Regions from separate parts of the Homo sapiens genome. Here all the other regions are linked to region 1. The links come from fine-mapping of genetic effects on gene expression. A gene starts in region 1. Each other region holds a variant in brackets. All regions are shown on one strand. Distances are from middle to middle.

Region 1 (10,000 bases):
GCTCGTTTAGGGAAGGAGAAGGGGGTTGGCGCCCCGACCCCAGGGACGCCCACGAGAGGCCCGGCCCCGGCATACGGAGCCAGGGCATAGGCGTCCATGCGGGCCAGGGCCGCGGCCGAGGGCACAAGCGGCTCGGACTGCGCGAAGAGGATGCGGAACTCCTCGTCGAAGCTGGAGACCAGCTCTCCTTGGAACACGTGCGCCAGGCTGCGGTGGATCTTCTCAAAGGACCACATGAAGCTGTGGGGGGGTCAGGGCCAGAGTCAAACCGAGCTGGAGCGAGGGCACTGCAGCCCCGTGGGCAGCGGGTGGGGCGCGGAGGACGCAGGGATGTGAGGTCTGCAAGGACCTGGGCCCGGCTAGGCTGTGCAGGGGTCTACAGGACAAGGGCTCCTGGCGAGGAGGGCCCTGGTGTGGAAAGGGGGTGCTGGGGTTACAGGAGGAGGCCCCAGAGAAGGGGGTGAGGGAGCCCCGCGGGCGCACCTGTAGCTCCCACTCATCACCACGGCACAGTCCACCAGCAGGAACTTCTCCTTGACGTGGCCCTTGAAGGACTTCCCAGTGCGGCAGTAGTAGGTGGGGCCCGCCACAGTCCGTACGCGCAGGAACTGGGGAGGGAGGGGAGTCAGATCTCTCCCACGGGTCCTCCCCAATCTCCCACTCCCGGGAACTCACATCCACGTGCTGCAGGTTGACACGGCACTTGTCGGCCATGTCCAGGAAGTGCTGCGCGTTCATCTCATCCAGCAGGATGTAGACTGGGACCCGACGGGCCGCGGCCTCCAGCACTTCGCTGAGCAGGTCCACATCAGTGAACATGTCCATCACCACGGCCACCACCTGCAGGGGCGGGTCAGGACGGAGAGGAGAGGCCCCTGCTGTCCCCACACCATTGTCCAGCCTCCCCTCCACACCCGGGAGGTGTCTGGATCACCCACGACCACTGTGAAACAAGCTAGTCCATCCTAGGGAGTTGGCGCCACATCTGGGAAGATGGGCAGGAAGAAGGGACCAAACAGAAGAGGTGTGGAACGGCTGGCCATAAGGGGGAAACCGAGGCAGGTGCAGGGCAGAGAACCCTGGATGAGGGTGGGCCAGGTTGGGGCACGGCAAGGGCCCCTCAATCCCCTCCACCCTACAGACGGCTGAGCTGCCCCCATTCCAGGGCAGCTGTCAGGGCCAAGTGCCAGGCTCCAGTTCTGCCCTGGGACGGGGTTGTTGCCCTGGGCAGGGGAGAAAGTCACAAGCCTTTAGCGTCTGGACCTCATGCCTCAGTCGCTATGGTTTAACAGCACCTTCCGCCGTCTGCTAGCTGTTTGGTGATGGTTAGAAGCCCTCAGCTGGCCAAGGGCCACCGGGCAGGATGAGAGGTAATTATCTGAACAATGAACCCAGGCTGGTGGGGTGCCCACCCATCCCCAGAGCCCCCGAGTTTCTGGGCACTGGCCATGACCACAGGCAAGCAGACCTGTGCAGAGCCTGCAGCCCCTGATGACCGAGACCTGGCAGCCCTGAAGATCTTTGCCAGGGACCCCCACTCCAGCTGGAGCTCAGGCTCACCCCTCAAGCTGATCATGCTCATGCATCTCCTCCACCCCCGTGCCTCTAGCCCAGGCCCCTCCCCCACTACCCTCAAGCCCAAGATGGCGCACCTGCTGGGCGGAACGGATCATCCTGCGGGCCTCATCCTTGATACTGGGGCTGTCGGGGGGCGGTGGCTGCACCAAGGTGGTCACCTCGGTGCCCTGGAAGCCGAAGGTCAGAGGCCAGCCCAAATCAAGCTCAGGCACGGCCTGGTCTGAGTTCACTGGCCAGTATGTACCCGAGGAGCCATCCATGTCCACGTCGAGAAGGCTGCCTTCAGGTGGCTCTCGGGTAACATACTGCGGAGGCCGAAGGTGTCGGCTCACATGTTCCAGCTCTTCAGGGCACAGGAAGTCTGGTGCCCCCTCGGTAGCGAGGAAGCGGCTGTAGGCCTCCGAGCCACCCTCGGCCAGTGCATCCACCGCCAGGCGGTAGTACTCTTTGTAGTGAGGCGGCAGGTACCCGGGTGCCAGTGGGTTGTCCCCCTGCGAGGAGCTCTGAGAGCGACGGGCCATGTTGGGGCCAGGGGCCTGGAGGGGCAGGGAGACACATGACTAGGGGTGGGGGCACTGGGACCACTCCTACCCTCGAGCATGGACACACTGTGGAAAGGGCCGTCAGTGACTTGGGTAGGCTGGAGTTTAGCCCATGCCCAGGAGGCCTTCCAGGGCACCAGCCGAACCAGGCTCACAGAGAGCAACCCAGACCCTAGGATGCCCCTAGCTGAGGGGACACTGGCAGAGGGCTGGGGCACAGGTATCCCAGCCCTGTCTCTCCTTTCTCTGGGAGGCTGAGGCAGGAGGACTGCTTGAAGCCAGGAGTTTGAAACCAGCCTGGGCAACACAGCAAGACCCCATCTCTACAAAAAATTTTAAACATTAGGCAGGCATGGTGGCGTGCACACATAGTCCCAGGCACTTGGGAAGCTGAGACAGAAGGATTGTTTGAGCCCAGGAGTTGGAGGCTGCTGTGAATTATGATTGTGACACTGCACTCCTGCCTGGGTGACAGAGTGAGACCACATCACTACAAAAAATAAAAATAAAACGAACCCCCCCCCCCAAATATTTCATGACTGTTGGCTTAAAGACAAACAATCCAGGCTGCATTCATCATTATAATATTCACTTTTTTCTTATTTTAAGACATTCACGGACCCCTGGCACTGTGCCTACTGGACAAGCTGGTGCCGCCCATGCTGCCCATGTGTCCGTCTCTGACTGCCTGGGAGACTGTGGGTAGGTCACTGCACCTCTCTGGCCTACCTCTACTGCACAACACAGCTGAGGGTCCACATGACACCACGCCTAGCCCAAGGTGAGCGCAGCAAACAGGGCTGTGACTACCCTCCTCCTGGAATGGCAACCTTAAGCCCCACACATAGTCCCGGGCCACACCTCCTCCCCATCCTCAGGGTTTCACAATTGGGCTCCCACAGCCCATTCTATGACCGCCCAGTCCTGGAACACTGATCCCTAGACTCCGTCCCTGTCTCCCAGCACCCCCTCCTTCCCTTGGCCTACCTTTGACCTCTTTCTTGTCACTGTCCCTCTCAGATAAAACCTCCCTGGGCCACAGCCCCTTGGTGCCCACAGGGCCCTGCAGGGCCTGCACTCCACATCGCCCAAATCTGGCTCTCCACTTGCTCAGAGTCCTGTCCCCACCAGCCCCCATCCAGGGCAGCAGGGACCTTTCCAGGTCCTGGGCTCGCCACCACCATCCATGCTTGGCTGCCCCACAGCCCACTCTGTTCTCCAAAGGGTCCCTGCGGGGGCCTGGCCTCTCCAGAAAGGTGTCAGATGGGGAGCGCCCAGGGCCCACGCACACAGGGTCACTGAGCTACCTGGGTACCTCTCCCTGGAAGGAGAGCCCTAGGGACTGCTCAGTCCATCCCACTGCTCCTCGGGTTGGGGAGGGAGGCAGGACACCTGTCCCCGCCTAGCACACAGGTTCCTGAATGTTGGCCCTGGCTAGGAAGGTGCCCAGAGGAGCGTGCCCCTGGGCGCTGACAGGATGGATGCCGGCCAGCTGGACTACATGGGTGCTAGCCGGAGCCACTTGGCTGAGAATGTTGGGGTCAGGAGGCAGCCGTCCTGCCTGGTGCCCCTGGGGGTGACATGGAGTTGAGACATGGGAAATACCTGGTGCCACTCAACAGCCCTAGATGCCAACCGGCTTGGGAGAAGCTGTCCCAACATTTCTTTGTTGGGGCACCGTCCTCATGGTTGACATATGGGGCTGGTTAGGGCACACCGCTCTGGTTGTGCCAGGGGCAGATCGAGGCCAACCACATGGGGGTGAGGTGTAGGCCTGTCTGGCTGGGCCGAGGAGCCCACTCACCATTGCCAGCCTGTCTGTAGGGGCGGTGTCTGACCATACAGGGCAGGGGGAACAACCCTGCTGATGTTGTTTGAGGGTACTTCCCGACACTGGGGGGACACTCTAGAAAGGACCCCCACTGTCCCTTTGGATTTCAGTGTCCAGGCTCCAGGCTGTGTGTAATGGGGGCAGGGACCATCCAGACAGTGGAAGCCCCCGTGGCCAGGAGCCCTCCCAGCAGACATGCCTCGTCCTCACAGGGTGATGCCCAGACCTCCAACTGCTTCATTCCTCACGTCGTCTCCTTTCATGGGTACGTGTCTCCTGGGCTATGGACGGGGCTGCAGCCACTCCCGAGCCCAAGATGGAGCACCCCAGTGGCCTGCATGCCCACACATTTGCCTACCAAACGTCTGCCCAAGGGAGGGAGGGCGCGGAACCCACCCATGGGCAATGACTCAGCACGAATCCACTCTTCTGCTTGCTGACCCCTGACCTCTGACTCGAAGTCAGGGCCCTCAGCTGGCCTTCAAGGACCCCATCCTCTCCACCCTGGCAGGAAGTGGGGTTCCTGAGTATCTGGAAGGAGGACCCCATGGAAGGATCTGGAGTTCCTACACAAAGTGGGGTGAACCTGTGCCAAGTTCCGATGGGCGCAGGAGGGCGCGGAGGCTCTAGGCGGCGGAAAGGTGGGGTGCGGAGGACGGGGCTCACAGACCGGAAGTCGCTCAGTGATAACTTGCGGAGTGGGCACCCCAGCCCCCAACGGGGTCAGTGCACCCTACGAGCTCGCGGCTGCGGCCGCTGGGTGCCCTATCCGCCCACCCCAGCCCAGGAACGTGGGCGCGAGGGGCAGCACTCCCATCACTCGCCCTGCTCGCCACGCGGGGATCCAGGCCGCACCCTGGCCACCCCAGTCCACGGCGGCCCGGGCGGATGTCCCCAGGGAAGGGTCCAGGCCGTGCCCAGCACCCAGACTCCAGCTAGGCCGCGAGGGCGGGAGCGAGTCGGGACGGCCGGGCAGGCTCGACCCGGATCCCGGGCCCCTTCCCCCTCGGCTCTTTTCGGGCCGGCGTCGTGCGGGGGCGCTCGCGTCCATATCCGCACAGCGGCGCCCCCTGTCCGAGCAGCCCCGCCACCCCGGCCCCGCGCACGCGGCCGCGCTCCACTCCCACCGCCCCTCTCTGGGTCGCGCGGCCCCGGCCCAGGTGTGGGCGCAAGGGTAGCCCAAGTGGGACCGCGCCAAGGGGCGCCCGCCCCCCGCCTCGCCCCGCCCCGCTCGGGCCGGGGGAGGGGGGCCCTACCTGGCCAGGTGCGCGGGGTCTCGGCACAGGGGCAGCAGGAGCCGACCGCCGCCCAGCGGCCTCGCGGTCCGGTCGGTCCGGCAGCCACTCCCTGCCGCGGCCCGCCCGGCCTGATTCACGCGCCCGCCCCCGCCCCGCCCGTCGCTCCTGCCTCCTGCCTGCCCGGGCAGCACCTGGGGGCGGGGCAGCCCCACCCGCGGCGCGCCCGCATTCCTGCGCCCCGCGCCCGCCGCCAGCCCCAGCCCGCGCCCCCGGCCCGCGCCCCGACCCGCCCGTGCCCTGCGGCCGCGCGCCCGGAGACCCCGGCCCAGCGCCGCCGGAGACCGTGAGGCCCGCACTTCAAAGACCCCGACCCCCGGGAGCCCAACTGTTGACCCAAGGCTCAAAGTTCCCAGCCTGACCCCTGACCCTCGCCCCGGAAGTCGGGGTGACTCGGAAGTTCCGGCTCAGTCGCTAGGAAACGAGCGAGCCCGACGCCAGGGGCGGAGCTCTGGCCTCCTCGCCGAGTTGGGGGAGGCAGGTGCGACAGGTGAGGACGGTGGGGCGGCGTCGAGCCCCGGGCGGGGCCGGGTCTGGGAGCCCCGAGAGCACAGGGGATCCCCTCACCACACACCGGTCTCCCACCGCACCAGCGCCCCACACGTAGACGAGGACCCCGCCCACACAGAGGACCCCCAGACCCCAACCCCCACCACACACACTGATGCCCACAAGTACCTGGGGTCCCCCATCTTTCTCCCTCACCCCCTCACACCGATGCCCACACTTGTAGGGGACTCTGCCGCAGTGACCCCCCCATGCACATGCGGACCCCGAATGACCTGTGCCTCATGTACACCAACCCCCAAGCACAGGAGACTCCTCAGGAAGACAGAAGCCACAAGCACACCGAGTCCTGCCCATGCCAGTCACCCACGAACACGCTGACATCCGCACACCTAGGGAACCCCACCTGCATATGAGATTTCTCAGACACCAACCCCACACACAAACAGGGGATGCCATATTCACACTGACTCTGAGAGCACAGGGGACCTCCCTCACATACGGAACCCTGTGTACACACAGGGACTCTGCAAAAACCAAGCCCCAACGGACAAGGGACCCAGTGTGCACACCAAGCCTCATACCAGACGCCCCCCCATGTACACAGCAACCCCCACACACCACCCCGAGCTGCCCCTGGGTGCTCCAGTCCCCCAGGTCCCCCTCAGGCCCTCACTTAGGGCCCCTCCCCCTCTTAGGCCCTGCCCTACACTGGATCATCTGTCCAAACCACCACCCCTCGCCCCTGCCACTCCCACCCCAAGGACTGGCCCTGCCTCAACCCTTTCTGATGGTCATCAGTCGCCTTTCTCTTTGTTCCTCTTGCCATGTGATCCTATTTTCTGTTTTCAGGGTCAGTCCCAGTTTCATTTGTTCTTTCCCCAAACACTCAGTGCCACCCCACTGGTACCAGCATGCTGGAAACATGGGTGGGGGGTCAGACCAGTGCCCAGGCAACTGTGCTGCAGCGGGTGAGGGGCATGGGGCACCGGGGAGGACCCGGACAGGCTGGGGCAGGCAGGAGGAGCCTCCCAGGGAAATGAACTTGGGGGTCAGCTGTGTGGACTAGGGAGAGGGGTGTTGCTCCAGGGCCTGACACCACCATCTGCCAGAGCCGGGACCACATAAGGTCTGAGGGTGTGGAGGGGTGAGTGCCTTGGGTGGGCTGGGGAGCAGGCTCAGGGGTGGGCTGGCTTCCCAGGGCAGTGGAGAGGCATGGAGGCTTCAGCAGAGAGGGCCATGCTCATGATTACGGTGAGAACAAAGACCGGCCCACTGGCAACCCAGCAGCTTGGGGCAGGGAGAAGAGTGCTAGACTCCAGATCCTGCGCCCGGCAGGATGGGCTGAGCCTGGGGCGGAGGGGCAGGCAAGCCACGGCCAGGGGGACGGGAGGTGGCCAAGTGCTCTTGCCAGGCATCCCGGCTCAAGCTTCTGGGCACACACCCGGGGCGGGCAGGCAGACAGGACACCAGCTGGGAAGCCTCAGGGGAGCCCATGTTCCTGCTGTCATCCACTCAGGCGCCCATGGTGTGCCCTGTTCCCCACTGCCACTGCCCCTGCCCTCTGCCACTCTGAGCACCCTCTCCCTGGTCCTTCCCTACCCACCCCCCAGGAGAATGGACAGTAAGAAGGGGAGACCCAAAGCTGCAGCTGGGAAGTGGCAGACGCTCCACCCTGGGCCCAAGACAAGAGCTGCTGCTGGTAAGTGCACCCTCTGACCTCCAGAGCACTGTCACCCAGACACTGACCTGTGAGACCTTCTATGTAGCCACCGAGAGACACCCCCTCTGAGGAGAGCCCTTCTTCCAAGAGTGGCTTTTAGGGGACCTCTGAGTTGGGATTAGGTGTGATTGACTGAGGGTTCAGAGCCCATTCATTCATCTCAGACCTTGAGCCTGAATCTATTTTTTTTTTTTTTTTTGAGACGGAGTCTCGCTCTTGTCACCCAGTCGAGTGCAATGGCGCAATCCCTCCTCACTGCAACCTCCGCCTCCTGGGTCCAAGTGAGTCTTGTGCTTCAGCCTCCCGAGTAGCTGGGATTATGGACGTGCGCCACCACGCCCTGCTGATTTTTGTATTTTTGTTTTAGTAGAGACGGGGTTTCGCCACATTGACCAGGCTGGTCTTGAATTCCTGACCTCAGGTGATCCGCCCGCCTCGGCCTCTCAAAGTGCTGGGATTACAGGCTTGAGCCACATGCCCGGCCAAGCCTGAATCTTATACCCCTGGGGTTGGGGTGGGGGCCTAGGGGTAGCACTCAGAGAAGCCCAGCTTTGGAACACATGGAGGTGGGAAGGGGGCAGGAGCCAGTGGGAGGCGCCTAGATGGCCAAAAATGGGTTTTGAAACAGGAGGGTTTGAGTCCAAGTTGGGGATTCTCAGTCTAAGCATGTGTTCTCTGACTCTCTGCTCCATCTGGGCCATCCTGTGCTGCCCTCTGCCTGCGGCTTTGCTCCCAGTCACCTTCTCCATAGTCACTTCCAGGTTGGATGGTGACAGCTCACCTGGGCTGGGTTTTCCTGTGGGTCAGGAAGGAGACTTCCCCCAGTACCCTCCCCCACCCCAGCCCCGCCTTCACTGTTGTCACTCCCTTGCTCCAGCTCCCATTTATTCTCTATGCTGGCTGTGAACACATTCCAGGTTGCAAATCTGGGGTCCTTCAGCACCCAGGCCTGCACTGGGGTCTGTGCTTGCTAAGAGAGCACCCCATCCTGCTCCCCAGACTGCCCCTCTGCTTAGAGTGGGCCTGGCCTAACACCCCTGGTTGCCAGAGAGCTCCCAGATTCACAGGAGCAGGTGGGATGATGGTGACCGCTCCTCCACGCCAGGCTGGGGTTAGATCCTAGTTCCCCAAAATAGCCCCAGCTGCGTCTGAGGCCAGCCGCCCTCCTGGAATGAGGATAATGGGCACAGGTGCCGCATGCTGCTTCCGCAATCTCTAGCCCTGAGTACACTGCACTCCAATAAACGGGGGGCAGGGCAGGTGGACCAGCAAGGCAGCCAGGAAACTGGGTTGCAGGGGTGGGGGCTGTGCTCTTCAGTTCTGCTACCTACTGACTGCACACCCAGGCCTTCGCCCTGCACCGCAGCCCATACACTGCCCTGGACGGCTCTGGCCCAGCATGCCTGGGTCTGCTGCAGGGACACCTCTGTCCCTGAACAAGTATCTGCCCTCAGTGCCCATTTCCACCAAGCATTGGGCCAGCCTGGGCAGGCTTGCTGTCCCTTGGTCTTGCAGTGCCCTGTGTGGCGGGCACCGGCTTCACTTGGCAGATGTGAAGATGGGCCCACAGATACCCTGCATCCAGCCTGGCTTCCTGGGCCTCCACAGGCATCCCTAGGTTGCTGCAGTGGCCACCGCACCAACACAACAGTCCGGGACCCCTCCCGCCACCCCATCCAGGCCTTACCTGGCCTTGGGTCTGCAGTGCTTCGAAGCCCTCACTCCGGAGCTGCTCCAGGGCCACGGCCAGCTGCAGCCCCTCCACGTGTACCCAGGCCTGCTCCTCCTGTAGCTGCTGCAGCCACAGCTGCTCCTCCTGTAGCTGCTGCAGCCATAGCTGCTCCTCCCGCCACAGCTGCATCTGCAGCTGGACCTGCCGCCACCGGTCCTCCAGCAGCAGCTGCTCCTGGGCCAGGCACAGCTGGACCTCATGGAGCCTCAGCAGTTCGGGGCCCAGGGCCGGCATGGGGTCCCCTGCTCCACAGCCTTCCATGTGCCCAGCAAGGACCAGCACCAGCTCAGACCCCGGAGCAGTGGCCGGCACCGGTCTCGAGGCTGCCTGTGGCTGCTCTGGCCTGGCCACCCTGGGGTGTCCCTGAGGTGCTGGCTCGATGCTGGTCACGTGCCCTGTAGGGGCCACCCCCGCTTCACCCTGAGGGCCCCCTGGGGTGGGGGGCGGGGGCTCGACCTCAGGGCCCTGCTGCCCAGCTGCCGGCTGGGCCCTGCCTGCCCTCCTGGCCCGGGGTTTGCGAACTCGACTTCGTTTCCCAGACATGGCCCTGGATCCAGCGCCTCCTTCACCAGGTGTCTGCTCCCCAGGGGCCCTGGCTCATGGACCAGCCGGCCTCAGGCCAGCTCAGAGGGCGTCCCTGGAGGCTACAGTGGCCGTGTGCTCCCACGCCAGGCTTGGCCCCCTGTTCCAGGTCCTGCCCCTTGCTGGAGCCCGCAGCACCGCAGCTCGGGACTCTGGCTCTGCCTATGGGCCTCACTGACCCCACTCGGTGGGGCCAGGCCACGCCAGGGA
Region 2 (10,000 bases), 38 kb after region 1:
GTAGGCTCTTGTGTGCATTCAGGTATGTTACTAGTTCTCTATTGTGCTGCTGCCTTTTTTCTTACGGCTTTGTAGTATTTCCCAATATATTCGGAATACAAACCTTTTGTCAGTTACATGGATTGCAAATACCTTCTCCCACTCACTGGCATTTTTACTTTCAATGGTGTCTTCTCGTGAATAGAACTAACTGATTTTTGCTGGGCATGGTGGCTCATGCCTGTAATCTCAGCACTTTGGGAGGCTGAGGTGGGTGGATCACCTGAGGTCAGGAGTTCAAGACCAGCCTGGCCAACATGGTGAAACCCCATCTCTACTAAAAATACAAAAATTAGCCAGGCGTGGTGGTGGGCACTTGTAATCCCAGCTACCTGGGAGGCTGAGGCAGGAGAATCGCTTGAACCCGGGAGGTGGAGGTTGCAGTGAGCCAGGATCGAGTCACTGCACTCCAGCCTACGTGACGGTGCGAGATTCTGTCTCACGAAAAAAAGAAAAAAAAAAGAACGTACTGATTTTAACATGTTTTCTTTTGGGTATTTTTTGTGGTGGTCTCTGAAATAAATCTTTCCAACTCCAAGTTCCTGAAGCTGTTCTCCCATGTGATCTTCAACGAGCTTTATGGTTTTGCCTTCCGGTGCGATCACCAGTCCATCTGGAATTGCCTGTTGTGAATGGGGTAAAGTAGCAGACACCTGTCCTCCCTCTCCTCATACGGGTTTCTGATTGGACCCCACCACTGACTGAAATCTCTATTCTTTCCCACGGCTCTGTAGGCCCCCTGGCCAGGAAGTGCCCATATGCCCGGGGGCTGTTTCTGAACCCACGGCCACTGGTCTCCGTGTGAGAACATCGCACTGTCTTCACCGACATGAGGTCCTAATATCAAGAAAAGCAAGTCCTCTCACCGAATTCTTCTTTGAATTATTTGCCATTCTTGGCTCTTTCGCAGATACATTCCAGAATCACGTGGTCAATTTTCACACAAACAAAGCAAAACAGCCCTGCTGGGTGAACTTCATTAGGATTTCGTTGAACCTATAGCTCAATGTGCGGAGAGTATCACCTCTACAGCAGTGTCCACTCAATCTATGAATATGGTATATCTCTCCTTTTGTTTTCTGTTTTGTCTTAGTGCTCTTCAGAAATGTTTTATGAGTGTGTGTGTGTGTGTTTGCTCATGTGTATAGAGATCTTGTGTGTATCTTTGTCAGATTTAATCCTAGTATTTGACAATTGTTTACTTTTTTATTTTCAAGTAGTTTTGGTCTTGCAGAAAAGTAACAGAATTAGTATGGGGATTTTCCATAGATGTGTAACTTACCCAGCTTCCTCTAAGATTAACATCTTACATAGAGACAGTACAAGGAACAGAACCAGGAAATCAACACTAGCATAAAACCATTAACTAAAGACCTTCTCAAATTTCACCAGTTTTTCCAGGATGCCATATTGCATTTATTTGCTGTTTCTGCATAGTTACCTGTAGTCTGTAACTGTTCCTATAGTCATGACTTTTCTTTCACGACCTTGACACTTTTGAAGAATGAATCTGAGTGTGGTGGTGTATACCTGTGGTCTTGGCTACTCAGGAGGCTGAGGCAGGAGAATGGCGTGAACCCGGGAGGCGGAGCTTGCAGTGAGCCAAGATGGAGCCACTGCACTCCAGCCTGGACGATGGAGCGAGACCTTTTTTTTTTTTTTTTTTTTTTGTGAGACAGAGTCTCGCTCTGTCGCCCAGGCTGGAGTGCAGTGGCTCAATCTTGGCTCACTGCAAGCTCCTCCTCCCGGGTTCAAGTGATTCTTCCTGCCTCAGCCTCCCCTGTAGCTGGATTACAGGCGCCGCCACCACACCCAGCTAATTTTTGTACTTTTAGTAGAGACGGGGTTTCACCATGTCGGCCAGGTTGGTCTCAAACTCCTGACATCAGGTGACCCACCTGCCTCGGACTCCCAAAGTGCTGGGGTTACAGGTGTGAGCCACTGTGTCCGGCTGAGGCTCTGTTTCTAAAAATTAAAAATAAAATAAAGCAGAAATGATGTTGTGTTTTTGACGTACATCATGTCATGGGGCTTACGGTGCGGGAACGTCTCACCGCTTGTGACGTTGCCCTCGATCACTTAGTAGGAGGGTTTCCGCGAATGTCTCACTGCTTGTGACGTTGCCCTCGATCACTTAGTGGGGGGGTTTCCGCCAGGTTTCTCCTTTGTAAATGTACTATGTTTTCCTTTCGTGGTTGATACTTATCTTGGAAGAGATATATTGAGACAAGAGAAATTCTGCTTCTCTTCAAACCCCTGCCCACTGAAACGTGCGCCGGCGGACATACGTCGGTGGCTGTCAGCTGCAGCCGCTGCACTTCTTGTGTGCCCGATGGGAATCTGCTCCTTCCCTGCCCCCTCCTACACCCATTGATGGGATTCTACTTTCCCTCCACTCCCTCTAGTGTGTTTTTAATCCTTTATTTGTATCACTGTGGACTCACTGACGTTTATTTTGTGGGCTTAATCCAAGTATATGATAGTTTTTTGATGCTAAATATATTAAATTTTTCTGTTGCTGCTTGTGTACAGAAATACACTTTGTGAGTATGAGGTTATATTCAGAACCTTCCCAAGATTGCTTATTGATGATAATCATTTGTGATGAGTTCTTCTGGATTTTTATGTGCATCATCTGCAAATGAAGATGACTTTGACTGTTTGCTGTCACTCTTTGGAGCTGGGCCCCTGTTACCATCAGGGTTATTTTATTTCGTGAAGGTTGTGATTCTGACCCAAATAGGGCTACCAGATGAAACAGGGCTCCCAAAATCCGGGACATCCATTTAAATTTGAATTTCTCATATATACATATTCTATATGTATAATATAAAAATATATATATTTTACTGAGACAGGGTCTCGCTCTGTTGTCCAGGCTGGAGTGCAGTGGCATGATCATGGCTCACTGCAGCATTGACCTGGGCTCAAGCCATCTTCCCATCTCAGCCTCCTGAGTAACCGGGACTACAGATGCACGCCACTGCACCCAGCTAATTTTTAGTTATTTGTAGAGACAGGGGTCTCCCTACGTGGCCCAGGCTGGTCTTGAACTTCTGGGCTCAAGTGGTCCTCCCACCTTAGCCTCCCAAAGTGTTGGGATTACAGATGTGAGCCATTGCACTTGGCCCTATATATATTTTTTTAAAGAGAGACAGGGTCTCACCACGTTGTCCAGGCTGGCCTCAAACTCCTGGGCTCAAGCAATCCTCCCATCTCAGCCTCCCAATGTGCTGGGATTACAAGGCCACTGCGCTTGGCCTAAATTTGAATTTCAGATAAACAGGAATAATTTACTTAGTGTATGTCCCCCAAATTGCATCCTGTTTATTAGCTAAATCTGGCAACCCTAAACCCAAGCCATACCCAGTGCTCTAAATGCAGGTCTGTCCCTTGGCCCGTCCTCTGCTGAGCAGCTGACCCTTTGCTCTGGGCCAGGCCAGGCCCACCTGCCTGGTGTTGGGACCACCCTGCTGCACTGTTTTGGAGACCTCGTTCTTCATTTCCTCAGTAGCTTTGAATGCCGTCAGACACTTGTTTAAAAAACACTTTGATTTCGTCTGTCTTCTCTCTTGCTGTCACTGGGAAGGCTGCACCTCCTGCCCTGCCATCTGTGCTGCAGAACCAAATACTCTTCCTGGCCTACTGTTTTCCCTGCAGAATTTTGTGGACACTGCTTCATTTTCTTCTAACATTTAGTGTTTCTGTAAAAAGCCTTCGGAGGTGGCCGTGGTGCACAGGCGTGTGCCTGTGGTCCCAGCTACTCGGAGGCTGAGGTGGGAGGATTGCCGGAACCGGGGAAGTGGAAGCAGCAGTGAGCAGAGATTGTGCCACTGTGCTGCATCCTGGGTGACAGAGTGAGACCCTGTCTCAAAAAGAAAAAAGCCTCAGGAGAGCCGGACTTTCCTGTCATAGGTGCTTTGCTCTTTCTCCTCGGGTGCTTGAAAAACATTTTGTTTTGAGGCTTAACTTCAGCGAATTGTGTCTGATGCCTGTTGTTCATGCCCTTTGTTTTCTGGGATTTTTCCCCCTTTTGTCTTAAGATTCATTTCAGGATTTCCTGGGTTTTATCTTGAGTGTTTGCTCTTTGCTTGCATTGTCAGTCTCTGCATCCTAGACGCACGTTATTCTTATGACTGTATTATCTCTGTCCACTGCCACTCGG[G/T]GTCCCGCCCTCCTGACGGCGCCTCTCCCTTTATTCTCCTTCGCTGTGATTTTCCCACATGGGCTCAGCTCTCCACCCTGCCCCCGCTGGCTGCTCCGGTCCGTGCCCTGGGCCTGCAGGGTCTTCCGCGTCTCCCAGTCTCGCCTCATCCCGCCATTCTGCCCATGCTCCCTGGGAGCTTGGTTGTGGGAATCATAGTACTTGGCTCCCCAGCGGGCGCACCTGTGGAGACCCAGCTGCGCTGCCTGCTTGCTTCTGGCCTGCGCTCCCGTGGCTCCCTGCTGGGTACCCGCGTGGCCCGACAGCCTCGCCTGGCCACCCGTGCCCTGGCACAAGTCACACCCACGGGGCGCACGCTGAGCGTTCACTGTGGCGGAAGCGCCACAAGCGCCCCATTGCTGGACTCTTAGAAAGCTGCAGGTATCGTTCCACGTTAGAGCAAGGGGCTCAGGCCGGGGAGGCTGAGTGGTGCCCGGACTTCCCCAGGCCAGTCAGGGCAGCGCTGAGCCCGACGCCCTCTCCTCCGCCCCCTCCTCACTGCGAGGCGGCTCCAGGCTCGGGCTCAGCGCTCCGTTGCAGCCGCGGTGGGGCGAGGGCGAGGCCGAGCCGGAGAGGACAGAGCTCCCTCTGGGGCCCTGGGCTCCGCGCCCTCTTCTGAGTCCAGCGGGGCTGTGATGAGCCCTCCCAGGCCTGGGGCCCCCCCGCTCAGTCCAGCCTTCGCTCGCTGGGGCCTGGATGCAGGAGGGGCCTTCGGCTTTCAGGGAAGGGTGTCCCGCGGGGGACAGCACCCCTTCCTCACCGTTCCTCGGGGCTCCCGAGCTGCGGGCTCGGCGGGGCTCGCAGGATCCCCGGCGGCGTGGGGCGGGGGAGGTTCCCGCAGACCTGGGTCCTCTCCGCGTCCCGGGCTCTCGCGCAGCCTCCTCGTGCGGCCTCTGCGGGCGGGAACCCCGGCTCGGCCGCGCTGGGGGCTTTGAGAGCCGTTTGGGTCCTTCTGTCGGGGCGGGGGCGGGGGCGGGGCCGGCTCCACTCCCAGGGGCGCAGCAGGCGTGGCTGGAGGCGAGAACGCGCCCCCGTGAGCCTCTCCCCACCCCAGGGCCGGCCGAGGACCGAGCGGCCAGAGCGATCCAGGGCGCCTTCCGGCAGCTCCGGGCCAGGAGGGAGCTCGCCCGCCGCCGGGAGGAGCGCCGGGAGTACCTGGAGCAGATGGAGACGCCGCAGAAGGAGGTGAGGACGGGCAGCCGCAACAGCCGGGGGCCAGGCAGGAGGCAGGGGGAGGAAATGGCGAAGCAGGGTGCGTGGTGGGGGTGAGGCTCAGATCGGGCTCCGACCTCAGAGGCGTGGACCGTGGCCTCGGGGCTCGGGGCGGTGGCGCGGAGTGGGCGGTGACTTCGGCGGGCGCCTCCCAGGCCTACCTGGCTCCGGTGCGCCGGGAGCAGGAGGCCGCGCGGCGGCTGCGCGAGCAGGAGGAGGCGGCGCAGCGGGAGCGGCGGGAGGAGCTGCAGCGTCGCCGCCGCCTGCTGGACGCCGCCTTCGACGGGGACGTGGGCGAGATCCGGGCGGTGCTGAAGGAGGTCAGCGGGGGCGGGAGGAGGACGAGGGCGGGGGGTGGGGTGGGAGTGGGAGGAGCGGGGAGCGGTGACCGCGGCGAGCTGCGCAGGTGGAGCAGCTGCTGACGCGCGAGGGCGTGGGCCACGACGAGGCAGGCGAGGCGCGGCGGCTGCAGCGACGCGTGGCTCTGGCGGAGTGCGAGGACAGCTACGGGAACACGCCGCTGTCGGAGGCGGCCGCAGGCGGGCAGCCCCTGGCCATCCAGCTGCGGGCCGAGCTCGGCGCCAGCCCCAACAGCAAGGTGGGCGCCGTGGGCCGCGGGCCGCCGCGCTGAGGGGCGCGGTCCAGGGCCCTCAGGGGCCTCCTTCCCCCAGGGGCAAGGCCTGGATCTTGCTCGGGGGGCCCGTCTTGCAGGGCGCTTTCGGTCCGACGCCGCTGTACCGTGCAGCCTTTGGGGGCCACCTGGCAGCTGTGGAGGTGCTCCTGAAGCTCGGAGCAGACCCCCGGGTGTACGCAGAGGACGGGAGCACCCCTGAGCGGGTGTGGACCCCAGAGGTGTGGGCCCCGGGAGGTGTGAGCCCCGGGAGGTGTGGGCCTCGGGAGGTGTGAGCCCCGGGAGGTGTGGGTACCGGGAGGTGTGAGTCTGGCAGGTGCACACCCAGGCAGGGAAGGCTCACCCGACCGGCTGTCTCTGAAAGCTGTCAGAAGCCTGAGTGGCCTGCTAGAGCGGTTTCCTAGCCCCGCCGTGCGCCATTCCCTTCCTGGAAGTCCTGACTTTAAAACCTCGTCAGTCTGCAGTGGAAGTGGCAGCGACTCCCATTTTGTGAATGCCTTTGGTGTCGGGTTTTGTGTCATTTCCTTCCGTGCTTTGCCTGAGGAAGTGGTGTTACTGATGGAGAAACTGAGGCTGGCGATTCCAGGGTTGGCAGAGCTCACGGCGCTGGGGGCAGCACGGGGCCCACCCATCGGTCCCCTCACTGTCAGTACGTCGGTTTTCCAGAGAACTTGAGCCACACAGCCCAGCCACAGAGCTCCTTTCTAGAGCCTTTGAGCTATGTTAGAAAGGACAGTCTGGCTGTCTGGCCGGGCGTGATGGCTCACACCTGTAATCTCAGCACTTTTGGGAGACTGAGGCGGGTGGATCACTTGAGCTCAGGAGTTTGAGACCATCCTGGCCAACATGGTGAAACACCATCTCTACTGAAGATACAAAAATTAGCTGGGCGTCGTGGCGCACGCCTGTAGTCCCAGCTACTTGGGAGGCTGAGGCAGGAGAATCGTTTGAACCTGGGAGGCAGAGGTTGCAGCGAGCCAAGATGGCGCCACTGCACTCCAGCCTGGGCAACAGAGTGAGACTCAAAAAAAAAAAAAAAACAAAAAAAACACAAAAAAAACAGAGTCTGCCCTGGGCCAGGCTGGAGACACAATGCCTGGACTTGTCCCAGGCCCAGGAGTGGGGTGGGGTGAGGCTGACTCCGCCTGTTGGAGCAGTGGCTGGAAAACCAGACCACGAACCTCGCCTACCTTAGTTTCATTTAAATCAACTTAATTTGAACCCCAGTCCCTCTCCCATCTCAGTCATTATGTTCCCCCACCCCACCCCTAACCTCACCCCACATCCCACACAAATCTGGAGGTGCTGCCTGGAGTCTGGGTTCTGCCTCTGGCCCACGGCAGACACCTGGGAGATGCATCCACTGGACTGCTGCCAGAGTCTTTGCCCAGCTAGGGACCCACCCCCAGACTCTCCTCCTGTAGGTGCTGCCTGGGAGCCTGTCCTGCCCCTCTCTTCTTTCTCCTTGTCTGCAAAGGGTCCTTCTTCCTGGGCTGGAGGGGAGGGGCAGGGCCGAGGCGGTGGGCTTAGGGAGGGGCTGAGGATACGGTGAGGCGTCCAGAGGTGCAAGTGGGAGTCAGGGGTGCTGGGGTGTCCAGCAGACCTGCTGCCTGGGGCATGGTGGCCCGGAGAGCTGAGAAGGGCAGCAGCTGGGGGTGCTGGGGGAGCCCTTGGGTGCCAGGGGACTGTGTGTTCACTCCATGGTGCTGGAGCATTGGCCATCCACAGGCAAAGGGGTTAGTGTGGACCTGAAGCACACACCTATAAAAAATGAACTCAAAGTGGATTATAGATTTAAATGTAAAGGGTAAAATTACAAAACTTTTAGAACACATAGGAGAAAAATCTTTGGGGCCTAGGACTTGGAGGGATTCTTGGACATGACACAAAAAGCACAATCCAAAAAAAAAAAAAAACCACATTGATAAACAGAACTTCATCAGAATGTAAAATGTTTGCTTTGTAAAAGACCTGTCAAGAAGAAAAGAAGCCACAGGCAGGAGCAAACGTTTGTGAACCACGCATCTGGCAAGGCACGTGTACCTAGAACATAGAAAAAACTCACATCGCAAACAACAATGAAACATACAATCTAGGTATAAAATGAGCAAAGACATGAAGAGAAATTTCACCAAAGAGGATCTAATGATGGCAGATGAACACCCGAGGAGGTGTTGCACACCACCTCACACCTCCCAGGACAGCCCAGGTCAAACTAGAGCTGGAGCCGAACGAGGGCAGGGATGTGGGGAAGCTGGCCCTGCCACACCTTGCTGGGGGGACGCAGCACCAGTACAGCCGCTCTTGCAAATAGGCAGGCGGTTTCTTAAAAAGTGAACACATTTACCATGTAACACAGCATCAGACTCCTAGACATTTGCTCCAGTAAAAGGAAAACTAGGTCCACACAAAAATGTGTACACAGATGTTCACAGCAGCTTTATTTACAATAGCCAAAAAGTGGAAACGACTCAGATGTCCTCCAGCAGGCGAGTGGCTCCACTAGCTTGGTGCATTCCTGCCACGAAACACGCTTGGCAATAAAACGGTGTGCACACATGATCCATGCAACAACTAGCAACGTGGAGAAACCGGAAGGGAGCTTCACAGAGTGGGGGAGAAGGTCACACACACTCACATGACAACACTGTGGAGACGGAGGACAGATCGGAGGGCTGCAGGGGTTACGGATGGGAGTGGGGGCAGGAAAAGCGGGGAGAGATGGGGCCGACTGGGCAGGAGTAGCACAAGAGACCCTTGAGGTGATGAGACAGTCTTGTATCTTGATTACGATGGTCGTAACGCAAAACTGCACATGTGAGAAAATTGTAATGATACACACACACACACGAGTAGATGTGAAATAGTTGAAATCCACTGTGAGCCCTGTAGATTGTACTATGTCAGTATCCTAGTTTGTATGTTGTACCGTAATTATGTAAGAAGTCATCATTGGGGGAGCTTGTTAAGGGTATATGGGAACTCTACTATTTTTGTAACTTCATGTAAATCAAAATAAAAATTCAAAATAAAAATTTAGTTAAATTGCCAGGCATGCTACACACACACACACACACAGACACACACACACACACACACGAAAAATGACCCAGAGTGAAGAGAAAAATCAATGAAAACAGACTCAGGGATGACACAGGAGATGGAATTAGTAGACAAGAACATTAAAAGTTATTATAGCTGAGGCCGGGCGGGGTGGCTCACACCTGTCATCCCAGCACTGTGGGAGGCCGAGGCGGGCAGATCACAAGGTCAGGAGTTTGAGACCAGCCTGGCCAACATGGTGAAACCCCATCTCTACTAAAAATACAAAAATTAGCTGCTGGGCGTGGTGGTGGGCACCTCTAATCCCAGCTACTTAGGAGGCTGAGAGAGGAGAAGTGCTTGAACTCAGGAGGCAGAAGTTGCAGTGAGCTGAGATCGCGCCACTGGGCTTCAGCCTGGGCAACAGAGTGAGATTCCGCCTCAAAAACAAAAAAACTATAGCTGTATTACACACACACACACACACACACACACACACACACACCATTCCTAAACTAGAGATGAAAACTGCAATGTCTGAGATGAAAAGTACATTGATACACTGGATGGGATTAATGGAAGATGCAGATTAGACACTGAAGAAAATTAGTTAATCTGAAGATATAGCAATAGAAACTCTCCAAAATGAAACAAAGAGAAAGAGAAGGTTGAAAAAAATTGAGGAGGGCCGGGCGCGGTGGCTCACGCCTGTAATCCCAGCGGCCGGGCGCGGCGGCTCACGCCTGTAATCCCAGCACTTTGGGAGGCCGAGGCGGGCAGATTACGGGGTCAGGAGATCAAGCCCATCCTGGCTAACACGGTGAAACCCCGTCTCCACTAAAAATACAACAAATTAGCCGGGCGTGGTGGCG
Region 3 (10,000 bases), 55 kb before region 1:
GGGAGAATCCCTTAAACCCGGGAGGCAGAGGTTGCAGTGAGCCGAGATCACGCCACTGCACTCCAGCCTGGGCAACAGAGCAAGACTGTCTCAAAAAAATAAGTAAATAAAGTAAAATAAAAAGTAAAAATGGATCAAAGATCTGGATGCAAGACCTGAAACAGTAAACTCTTGTTAGAAACTGGGAGCAGAAGCTTTTGACACACACTGGGTTTGGCAATGATTCCTTGGACACCAAAGGTACAGGCAACAACAACAAACAGCCAAATGGCTTCGTGAAAATTAAAGCCTTTTGTTCATCAAAGGACACTCCTAAAAGAGTGAAAAGCTGCCCCTTCCCCACAGAACGGGAGAATATCTGCAAATCACGTGTCCGATGAGGGACTCATATCCAAAATATCGAAGGAACTCCTTGTGGAGGCCAAAGCCGCTCCAGCCTGGATGGTGACTATTGTGTGGGCTTTCGACTAACCCGTCCAGGGAAGGCCTCCGACGTTTCCAGGTGATCTGTTGTTCCTTGTGTAAGGGCAGGCACTTGCTATAAACCCTGCCGCAGGGTCAGACGGCCCTGATGCCGCCCATTGTCCTGCACTTCCCTCCCAACCCTCCCCGTGGTACACAAGCCCTGGGCGGGGGCAATGGTGGGATCCAGTATCTCCTCTTGCCGCTGCCAAGACAGACATGGCTTCTTTTTCTAAGTCCCTGTTAAGTGTTTCTTTCTAAGAAACTGGGTTTGTTAGCCTTTTTCTTTGACCTCTCAGCTTCCTCGGACTTTGGAGACAGGTTTACATAGACCTACTTACCATGGAACACTCCAGAAAACGACTCCCCAAAAACAACCTGATTCAAAAATAGGCAAAGGACTAATTAGACCTCTCTCCCAAGAATGGCCCAATAGGCTGGGCGTGGTAGCTCACACCTCTAATCCTAGCACTTTGGGAGGCCAAGGTGGGCGGATCACCTGAGGTTGGGAGTTCGAGACCAGCCTGACCAACATGGATAAACCCTTGTCTCTACTAAAAATACGAAATTAGCGGGGCGTGGTGGTGGGTGCCTGTAATCCCAGCTACTCGGGAGGCTGAGGCAGGAGAATTGCTTGAACCCAGGAGGTGGAAGTTGTAGTGAGCTGAGATCACGCCACTGTACTCCAGCCTGGGCGACAAAGTGAGACTCCGTCTCAAAAAAAAAAAAAAAAAAGTAAAGAAAAGAATGGCCCAATAAGCACATGAGAGGATGTTCACACCACTCATTCTTAGAGAACTGCAAATCAAAGCCACAATGAGATACCACCTCACACCCATTAGGATGGCAAACAATTAAAATAACAAAACAAACACAAAACAGAAACAACTTAAAACAGAAAAATAACAGGTATTGGCAAGGCTGTGGAGAAGCTAGAACCCTGTGTGCTGCTGTTTGGAATGTAAAATAGTACATAGTACACCTCCTAAGGAGAGCAGCATGGCGGGTCCTCGGCGTGTGGTGCCTGGAGTGACGTCGGGTCCTCGGCGTGTGGTGCCTGGAGTGACCGGCGGGTCCTCGGCGTGTGGTGCCTGGAGTGACCTTGTGACCTGGCCATTCCACTTCTGGGCATATTCCCAGAGCTGTGAAAGCAGGCACTCACGCAGACGTTTGCACCCCTACGTTCACAGCAGCACCATTCCCAGCGGCTCAAGAGTCCGTCAATGGACAAATGGATACACCGAATGTGGTATGGACACACAGCAGAATATTAGCCTTAAAGAAGAAGTCAATTCTGACACACGCTTCAAGAGGGATGAACCTTGAGGACATTGTGCTGAGTGAGATAATCAGTCACAAGAGGACCAATACTGTGTGTGATTCCATTTCTACGAGGTATCCACAGTAGCCAGATTCATAGAAACAAAGTAGAACGGTGGTTTCTAGGGCTGCAGAAGAGGGGAATGGAGAATACTAGAGGATCATAGAAGTTAAAGACTTAAAACAAACTTTAACAATTAGGACAGGATACCAAGGTGCAAATGCCTGGTTAAAATGGATCAAATATTCCATCTACACATTAAACAAAAGCAACTGTTACGCTTGTGCACATGGCAGGCCAGAGGCCCAGATTGTCCCCCTCCACTAAGGTGGTCGCCAGTCGACCAGGCGTGGCTGCATAGTAGCTCTTTTCCAGGATTCTACAGCCTGCAGTAACAAGACGTGCCAAGCTCTCTCTGCTATATCCCGAAATCCAGCACCCTGTGGGTCAGCCCGCAAGGGCCATCCAGCTTCTGTCTCCCAACACTAAGTTCACTTCGTGTCTCTCACGACAGGGAGGAAACAGCATTCCTTGGAGACCTGAAGGGATGCGATGAGCTTAAGAATTTTCGAGAGCTTATCAATCAGTCAGCCCTTGTTCATCCCTGTGCGGATGTGTGGTGGTATTGTGGTGGACCTTTACTGGGCACTCTGCTGAATAACTGGAATGGCACTTGTGCTTTAGTCCGTTTGGCTATCCCTTTCACCCTGGCATTTCATCAACCAGAGGGAGAAAAAATAAGACGTCATAAAGCGAGAGAAGCCCCTTATGGGTCTTTCAACTCTCACGTCTATTTGGATGCAGTTGGGGCCCCTCAAGGAACACCAGATCAATTAAAGCTTGAAATCAAATAGCTATAGGATTTACGTCAATATTTTAGTAGGTGACAGTTAATAAAAGTGTAGATTAGATAAACTACATCTATTACAACCAACAGCAACAAGCTTTTCATGAGTTAAAAGAAAAACTCCTGTTGGCCCCAGCCCTGAGTCTACCTGACGTGACAAAACCTTTTACACTCTATGTGTCAGAAAGAGAAAAAATGGCATTTGGAGTTTTAACCTAGACTGTGGGGCCCTGGCTAAGGGCAGTGGCCTATCTCTCTAAACAACTATAGGGGGTTTCCAAAGCCTGGCCCCCGTGTCTAAGGGCCCCGGCAGCAACGGCCCTGTTAGCACAAGAAGCAGATAAACTAACTCTTGGACAAAACCTGAATATAAAGGCCCCCCATGCTGTGGTAACTTTGATGAATCCCAAAGGACATCATTGGCTAACAAATGCTAGATTAACCAAGTACCAAAGCTTGCTGTGTGAAAATCCCCACATAACCACTGCAGTTTGCAACACCCTAAACCCCAGCACCTTGCTCCCGGTATCGGGGAGCCCAGTTGAACATAACTGTGTAGAGGTGTTGGACTCAGTTTATTCTAGCAGGCGCAACCTCCGAGACCATCCTTGAACATCAGTAGACTGTGAGCAGTACGTGGATAGCAGCAGCTTCGCCAACCCCTGCAAAGTGACTCTGAGGAAGACGACAAGCCCTGCTCCAGTCACGCCCAGAAGCTGACTGGTCCATGCACGGCCGAAGCATGAGGAAACTCATCGCAGGACTCGTTTTCCTTAAAATTTGGACTTGTACAGTAAGGACTTCAACTCACCCTCCTCAGACTGAGGACTGTTCCTAGTGTATACATCAAGTCACTGAGGGAGGACAAAATGTTGCTACAGTCCCATTATTTTACGGTTATTATAAGTGTACTGGAACTCTAAAAAGAACTTGTTTGTATAATGTTATTCTATACAAGGTATGTGCCCAGGAAATGACCAACCTGATGTGTGTTATGACCCATCTGAGCCTCCCATGACCACAGTTTTTCAAATAAGATTAAGAATTAAAGACTGGTGGGGGCTCATAAACAATATGAGTAAAGTGTTAGCCAAAAAAAACAAACAAAAAGAGGTGCCCAAACAAGTCACCTTGAAGTGTGATGCCTGTGCTGTCATTAATACTAATAAGTTAGGAATAGGATGTGGTTCTCTTCATTAGGAAAGAGGCTGTATGGCAGAAAATAAGTACATTTATCATGAGTTAGGACTGTGTGGAAATGAATGTAGTTACTGGTCTTGTGTCATTTAGGCTACTTGGATAAAAAATGAAAAAAATTCTGTCCACCTTCAGAAAAGGAAAAGTGGCCCTTCCTATACCAGTGGTCAGTGTAACCCCTTAGAACTAGTAATAACCAACCCCCTTAATCCTCGCTGGAAAAAAAGGAAATG[T/C]GTAACCCTAGAATTTTTTTTTTTTTTTGAGATGGAGTCTCGGTCTGTCACCCAGGCTGGAGTGCAGTGGAGCGATCTCGGCTCACTGCGAGCTCTGCCTCCCGGGTTCACGCCATTCTCCTGCCTCAGCCTCCTGAGTAGCTGGGACTACAGGTGCCCGCCACCACACCCGGCTAATTTTTTGTATTTTTAGTAGAGATGGGGTTTCACCGTGTTAGCCAGGATGGTCTCGATCTCCTGACCTCGTGATCCGCCCGCCTCTGCCTCCCAAAGTGCTGGGATTACAGGCGTGAGCTACCGTGCCCGGCCATAACCCTAGAAATTCATGGGGCTGGACTGGATCTTCAAGTAAATATTGTGGTTTGAGGAGAAGTTTATAAACGCTCTCCTGAGCCAGTATTTCAAACCTTCTATGATGAACTGAATGTGCCAGCACCAGAAATTCCAGGAAAAATAAGAAATTTGTTTGCAATTAGCTGACCATGTAGCCCAGTCTCTCAATGTCACTTCATGCTATGTGTGTGGAGGAACTATAATAAAAGACCAATGGCCACGGGAAGCCCAAGAATTAGTACCTACAGACCCAGTTCCTGACGAATTCCTGGCTCAGAAAAATCACCCTGATAACTTCCGGGTCCTAAAAGCCTCAATCACTAGACAATACTGTATAGCAAGAGTAAGGGGCCGGGCGCGGTGGCTCACGCCTGTAATCCCAGCACTTTGGGAGGCCGAGGCGGGCGGATCACAAGGTCAGGAGATGGAGACCATCCTGGCTAACACGGTGAAACCCCGTCTCTACTAAAAATATAAAAAATTAGCCAGGCGTGGTGGCGGGCGCCTGTAGTCCCAGCTGCTCGGGAGGCTGAGGCAGGAGAATGGCGTGAACCCGGGAGGCAGAGCTTGTAGTGAGCTGAGATCACGCCACTGCACTCCAGCCTGGGTGACAGAGCAAGACTCCGTCTCAAAAAAAAAAAAAAAAAAAAAAGAGTAAGGAAGGACTTCACCCTTCCTGTAGGACGACTCAGCTGCCTTAGGCAAAAACTGTATAATGGTACTACAAAAACAGCCACCTAGTGGAGTTCAAACCATACTAAGAAAAATCCATTTAGTAAATTCCCAAAGTTGCAAACCGTGTGGACCCATCCGGAGTCCCACCGAGACTGGACAGCCCCCACTGGATTATACTGAATGTGTGGGCATAGGCCTTACACCAAATTACCCGACCAGTGGGCAGGCAGTTGTGTGATTGGCACTATTAAACCATCTTTCTTCCTACTGCCTATAAAGACAGGTGAACTCCTGGGCTTCCCTATGTTTCCCGCGAAAAGAGAAGCATAGCTATAAAAAAATAAGAAAGATAATAAATGGCCCCCTGAGAGAATGATGGAATATTATAGGCCTGCTACTTGGGCACAAGATGGCTTGTGGGGATACCGGACCCCCATCTACATGCTCAACCAAATCATACGGTTACAAGCTGTCTTAGAAATAATCACTAATAGGACCGGCAGAGCCTTGACTATTCTGGCCCGGCAAGAAACTCAGATGAGAAATGCTATCTATCAAAATAAATTGACTCTCGACTACTTGCTAGCAGCTGAAGGAGAAGTCTGTGGGAAATTGAACCTTACCAATTGCTGCCTGCACATACATGATCGGGGCAAGTAGTTGAAGATACAGTTAAAGACATGACGAAACTGGCACATGTGCCTGTACAAGCGTGGCACGGATTTGATCCTGAGGCCATGTTTGAAAATGGTTCCCAGCGCTAAGAGGATTTAAAACTCTTATAATAAAAATTACAGTAGTAATAAGAACCTGCTTACTGATCCGTTGTTTACTACCTGTACTCCTTCAAATGGTAAAAGGTTTCATCACTACTCTAGTTCACCAGAATGCTTCAGCACAGCCGAGCGCGGTGGCTCACGCCTGTAATCCCAGCTTTTTGGGAGGCTGAGGCAGGCGGATCATGAGGTCAGGAGATCGAGACCATCCTGGCTAACGCGGTGAAACCCCGTCTCTACTAAAAATACAAAAAAAAAAAATTAGCTGGGCATGGTGGCGGGCGCCTGTAGTCCCAGGTACTCAGGAGGCTGAGGCAGGAGAATGGCGTGAACCCGGGAGGCGGAGCTTGCAGTGAGCCGAGATCGCGCCCCTGCACTCCAGCCTGGGCGACAGAGCAAGACTCCGTCTCAAAAAAAAAAAAAAAAAAAAAAAAAAAAAGAATGCTTCAGCACAAGTGTACTTCATGAATCACTATCGCTCTGTCATGCAGGAAGACATAGCTAGTGAGGAAGAAGGTGAGAACTCCCACTAATAAAATGAGTGAGAGTCTCAAAGAGGGGGAATAAGGGAGGAGACTGCCCCTCATATCCTCTTATGCCCAATTTCTGCCTCCAAAGAAAGAAGAAGTAAAAGCTAAAAGGCAGAAATGAAATCTACAGGTAGACAGCCCGGCGCCGCACCCTGGGCCTGGTAGTTAAAGACTGACCCCTGACCTAACCGGTTGTGTTACCTATAGATTCCAGACATTGTAAAAATCCCTGTCCCGTTCTGTTCCGTTCTGATTACCAGTGCATGCAGCCCCCAGTCACGTACCCCCTGCTTGCTCAATTGATCACGACCCTCTCACGCGGACCCCCTTAGAGTTGTGAGCTCTTAAAAGGGACAGGAATTGCTCACTCAGGGAGCTCGGCTCTTGAGACAGGAGTCTTGCCAATGCTCTCGGCCAAATAAACTCCTTCCTTCTTTGACTTGGTGTCTGAGAGTTTTGTCTGCATCTTGTCCTGCTACAAGCTCACGGCAACCTCTGCCTCCTGGGTTCAAGCAATTCTTCTGCCTCAGCCTCCTGAGTAGCTGGGACTATAGGCACGCACCACCACGCCCGGCTATTTTTTGTATTTTTAGTAGAGATGGAGTTTCACCCTGTTGGCCAGACTGGCCTCGAACTCCTGACCTATGATCTGCCCGCCTCGGCCTCCCAAAGTGCTGGGATTATAGGCATGAGCCACCGCACCTGGCCCATACAGCTTTTATAATATTATAGATTTTTTTCTTCCCAATGTTTTAAGAGATGGGGTCTTGGCCGGGCACAGTGGCTCACGTCTGTAATCCCAGCACTTTGGGAGACCAAGGCAGGCAGATCAACTGAGGTCAGGGGTTCGAGACCAGCTTAGCCAACATGGTGAAACCCTGTCTCTACAAAACATACAAAAAATTAGCTGGGCATGGTGGCGGGCCCCTGTAGTCCCAGCTACTCGGGAGGCTGAGGCTGGAGAATCACTTGAACCCAGGAGGTGGAGCTTGCAGTGAGCCGAGATTGCACCACTGCACTCCAGCCTGAGCAACAGAGTCAGACTCCATCCGAAAAAAAAAAACAGTTTTGAAAGTGTTGAGCACCCGATTCTATCGCTGATCGGGGCGCCACTTGTAACCTGCACGGACCTAAGGGGACTGAACAAAGGGGGCGAACTCGGGAATAAAGACAAGAGACAAAAGAGTATATTTGGAAGAGGGCGTCAGGGGGCACCTTGCCTCTAGTGGACAAGGGCCCTGAGCTTTACACAGCCCTCCGTATCTATTAGGCAAAAGAGATAGTGAGAAAAGGGGGGTGATTGTCGGGTAATTGTCAGTCGGCCTTGAACAGGCTGCATCCTTTGGACAATAGAGTATTTCTCAATAGATAACTTCAAGGAGCCCAGAGCCAGGGAGCGAGGCCCTCAGCAAACCTTTTGGTGGCAGGGCAGTGTGAGTTCACCCACATCCTGCATTCATGGTAAACAGTTTGCTGTTTGATCATAGAGCCTCCAGCGGAATGCTGAGTTGGTCACGTCCCACGGGCCTTCGGCTCCCTGCATGAAGCTATGACACAGGTGCCCTCCCTACAGTCTTTCCCAGGCCTGCTGGGTCTCAAGTAGCCATGTGGCACCCAGGGAGGCTGTCAAGGCTGTCTGAGGCCCGAAGTTACATCCTAGGTTAGAGCTCAGGACAGAAGACAGAGCTGTGAAGGCAATGCCTGGAGGATCCAACCTCTCCCAGAATAGCCAGGAGGCAAAACTGGCGAAAGGGGACCACATGGGGCTGGATTCTGCTTGGGAGCTGCTGGTCGAGGCACTGAGAACTTGTCCCCAGACCTCACCATGGCCACCTGTCCAGCCCCGATTCCAGAGGCTCAAAACCAAAAACATAAGTAACAGCAAATCAACAAGTATTAAATTATATGTAACTAACAATTTTGAAGACATTCCTATTGACATAGGATGTTGTTCTCAGTCATTCTGCAAGCCAGGGACCTCCGGCCAGCGACGCCCCGCCAGGGCCTCGCTTGACACACTACCTGCTGCAGGAGACAGCCCGTCAACTCCCCCGAGTTCCCGAATGCTTGTCCACGGCCAAGAAGAATGAGGAGGCTCTGACAATCGAAGAGTGAGCAAGGCGGGGAATTTCACTGGGTGACGGGGCAGCTTTCAGTGGAGAGGGGACATGGCGTGGTCCCCCTACATGAAGGCAGGAAAGTTCCCCATGTTATGGACTCAGAATGGGGAGGGCGTGCTGATTGGTTTGTGAGTAATGCAAAAAAGGTTAAAGCAAAGGCACCACTGAAAGGTGGGCATGACAGTGTAGAAAGCCAATTAGAAAAGGGTAGGTATATGTAAAATAGGTGAAGGGTGGGACCAATCAGAGGAAAGTGCGCCAGACAGGAAGACAGGCTCTCAATCCGGTCTGAGGATTCGACTTGCAGCTTGGCTTTCAGGCTTTAAGCTGTTTTCAGCGTCGAGGTGGAGGTTTCACTGGGGACCTGCCCCCATTTGGCTGGGCATTTGGCTGCCTGCCTCCTGTCGCTATCACTCCTTTACTAGTGAGGACTAAACTGATCTTTTTCTCTCTTGCTCAAGTTCTTATCTAAAGGGCCTGGGGAGTCTGCCCTACAAACCATAAAATGTCATCAGATAGGTTTTATTTAACCCTATATAATTGGCTTAGTTTCCAACCTGACTCTAGCATAACGTCACATGACAGATAAAGGAAATCAAAATATTTTACTCTTTTTTTTTTTTTTTTTTTGAGACGGAGTCTCACTCTGTCGCCCAGGCTGGAATGGAGTGGCGCGATCTCGGCTCACTGCAAGCTCCGCCTCTGGGTTTCACACCGTTCTCCTGCCTCAGCCTCCCGAGTAGCTGGGACTACAGGCGCCCGCCACCATGCCCGGCTAATTTGTTGTATTTTTAGTAGAGACGGGTTTCACCATGTTAGCCAGGATGGTCTCGATCTCCTGACCTCGTGATCCACCCGCCTCGGCCTCCCAAAGTGCTGAGATTACAGGCGGGAGCCACCGTGCCCGGCCTATTTTACTTTTAAATATATTTCTTGGCTATACTTTGGATGCTTTCAGGTCATAGGTGGATTCAAAGATTTTCTGATTGGCAATTGGTTGAATAAGTTAAGTGATTACCTAAGACCTGGAATCTATAGAAAGGCGTGTCTAGGTTTGAACAGTTGGCCACCCTTGTGTGGGTGGAGTATTACATAGGTGCCTAGGCAAGAGACTGAAGGCACAAACTGTTTCAGTATAATAAAGAAAATAGTTAGAATAAGAATAGTCATAATACAAATTAGATATAGAGATGACCATGAACAATTATCAATCATTATTATAAACATTATTAATCATTAGCTTTTACCATTACTCTTTGTTGCATTACTAATATAACCTAGGAATAACCGGCGGATATAGGGTCGGGTGCTGAAGGGACATGGTGAGAAGTGACCTAGAAGGCAAGAGGTGAGCCTTCTGTCACTCCCACATCAGGGCTGCTTGAGGGCTCCTTGGTCAAGCCCTAACGCCAGTGTCTGGGAAGTCACCCGTTGCTTAGTAGACTGCGAAAGGGAGTCTCCTTTCCTTGGAGGAGTCAGGGAACACTCTGCTCCACCAGCTTCTTG

Which allele goes with the higher level. Alleles are on the strand shown, and positions count from the first base shown. SD is a standard deviation of normalised expression in the study named. Not every link is listed here.
As copies of G replace T in region 2, the expression in cerebellar hemisphere of the gene that starts at base 5,656 in region 1 goes down (large effect, 0.77 SD a copy in GTEx).

Evidence for each region. PIP is the estimated chance that this variant, and not a neighbour inherited with it, causes the effect.
Region 2: its variant is fine-mapped to the expression of IQANK1 in cerebellar hemisphere (GTEx, PIP above 0.99).
Region 3: its variant is fine-mapped to the expression of IQANK1 in nucleus accumbens (GTEx, PIP above 0.99).

Annotation. Positions count from the first base shown.
Region 1 is chr8:143,728,484-143,738,483 of GRCh38, forward strand. IQANK1 (IQ motif and ankyrin repeat containing 1) reads left to right here and starts at 5,656. Exons shown (of 14, transcript NM_001381874.1): 1 at 5,656-5,736; 2 at 7,367-7,455. The coding sequence starts at 7,371. FAM83H (family with sequence similarity 83 member H) reads right to left here and starts at 5,296. Exons shown (of 5, transcript NM_198488.5): 1 at 5,208-5,296; 2 at 1,653-2,114; 3 at 676-840; 4 at 484-608; 5 at 1-240. The coding sequence starts at 2,099. MIR4664 (microRNA 4664) reads right to left here and starts at 4,670; the gene lies at 4,600-4,670. RefSeq lists a silencer at 4,149-4,359 and enhancers at 4,236-4,530, 9,282-10,000.
Region 2 is chr8:143,766,191-143,776,190 of GRCh38, forward strand. It overlaps IQANK1 (IQ motif and ankyrin repeat containing 1), which reads left to right. Exons shown (of 14, transcript NM_001381874.1): 4 at 5,298-5,428; 5 at 5,611-5,775; 6 at 5,862-6,053; 7 at 6,167-6,292. Among named protein-coding and RNA genes, the nearest start is that of IQANK1, 37 kb to the left of the region's middle. RefSeq lists an enhancer at 3,921-4,594. The variant G/T (reference allele first, on the strand shown) is at 4,205.
Region 3 is chr8:143,673,534-143,683,533 of GRCh38, forward strand. No RefSeq gene overlaps it. Among named protein-coding and RNA genes, the nearest start is that of ZNF707, 5.9 kb to the right of the region's middle. RefSeq lists a silencer at 8,521-8,746. The variant T/C (reference allele first, on the strand shown) is at 4,061.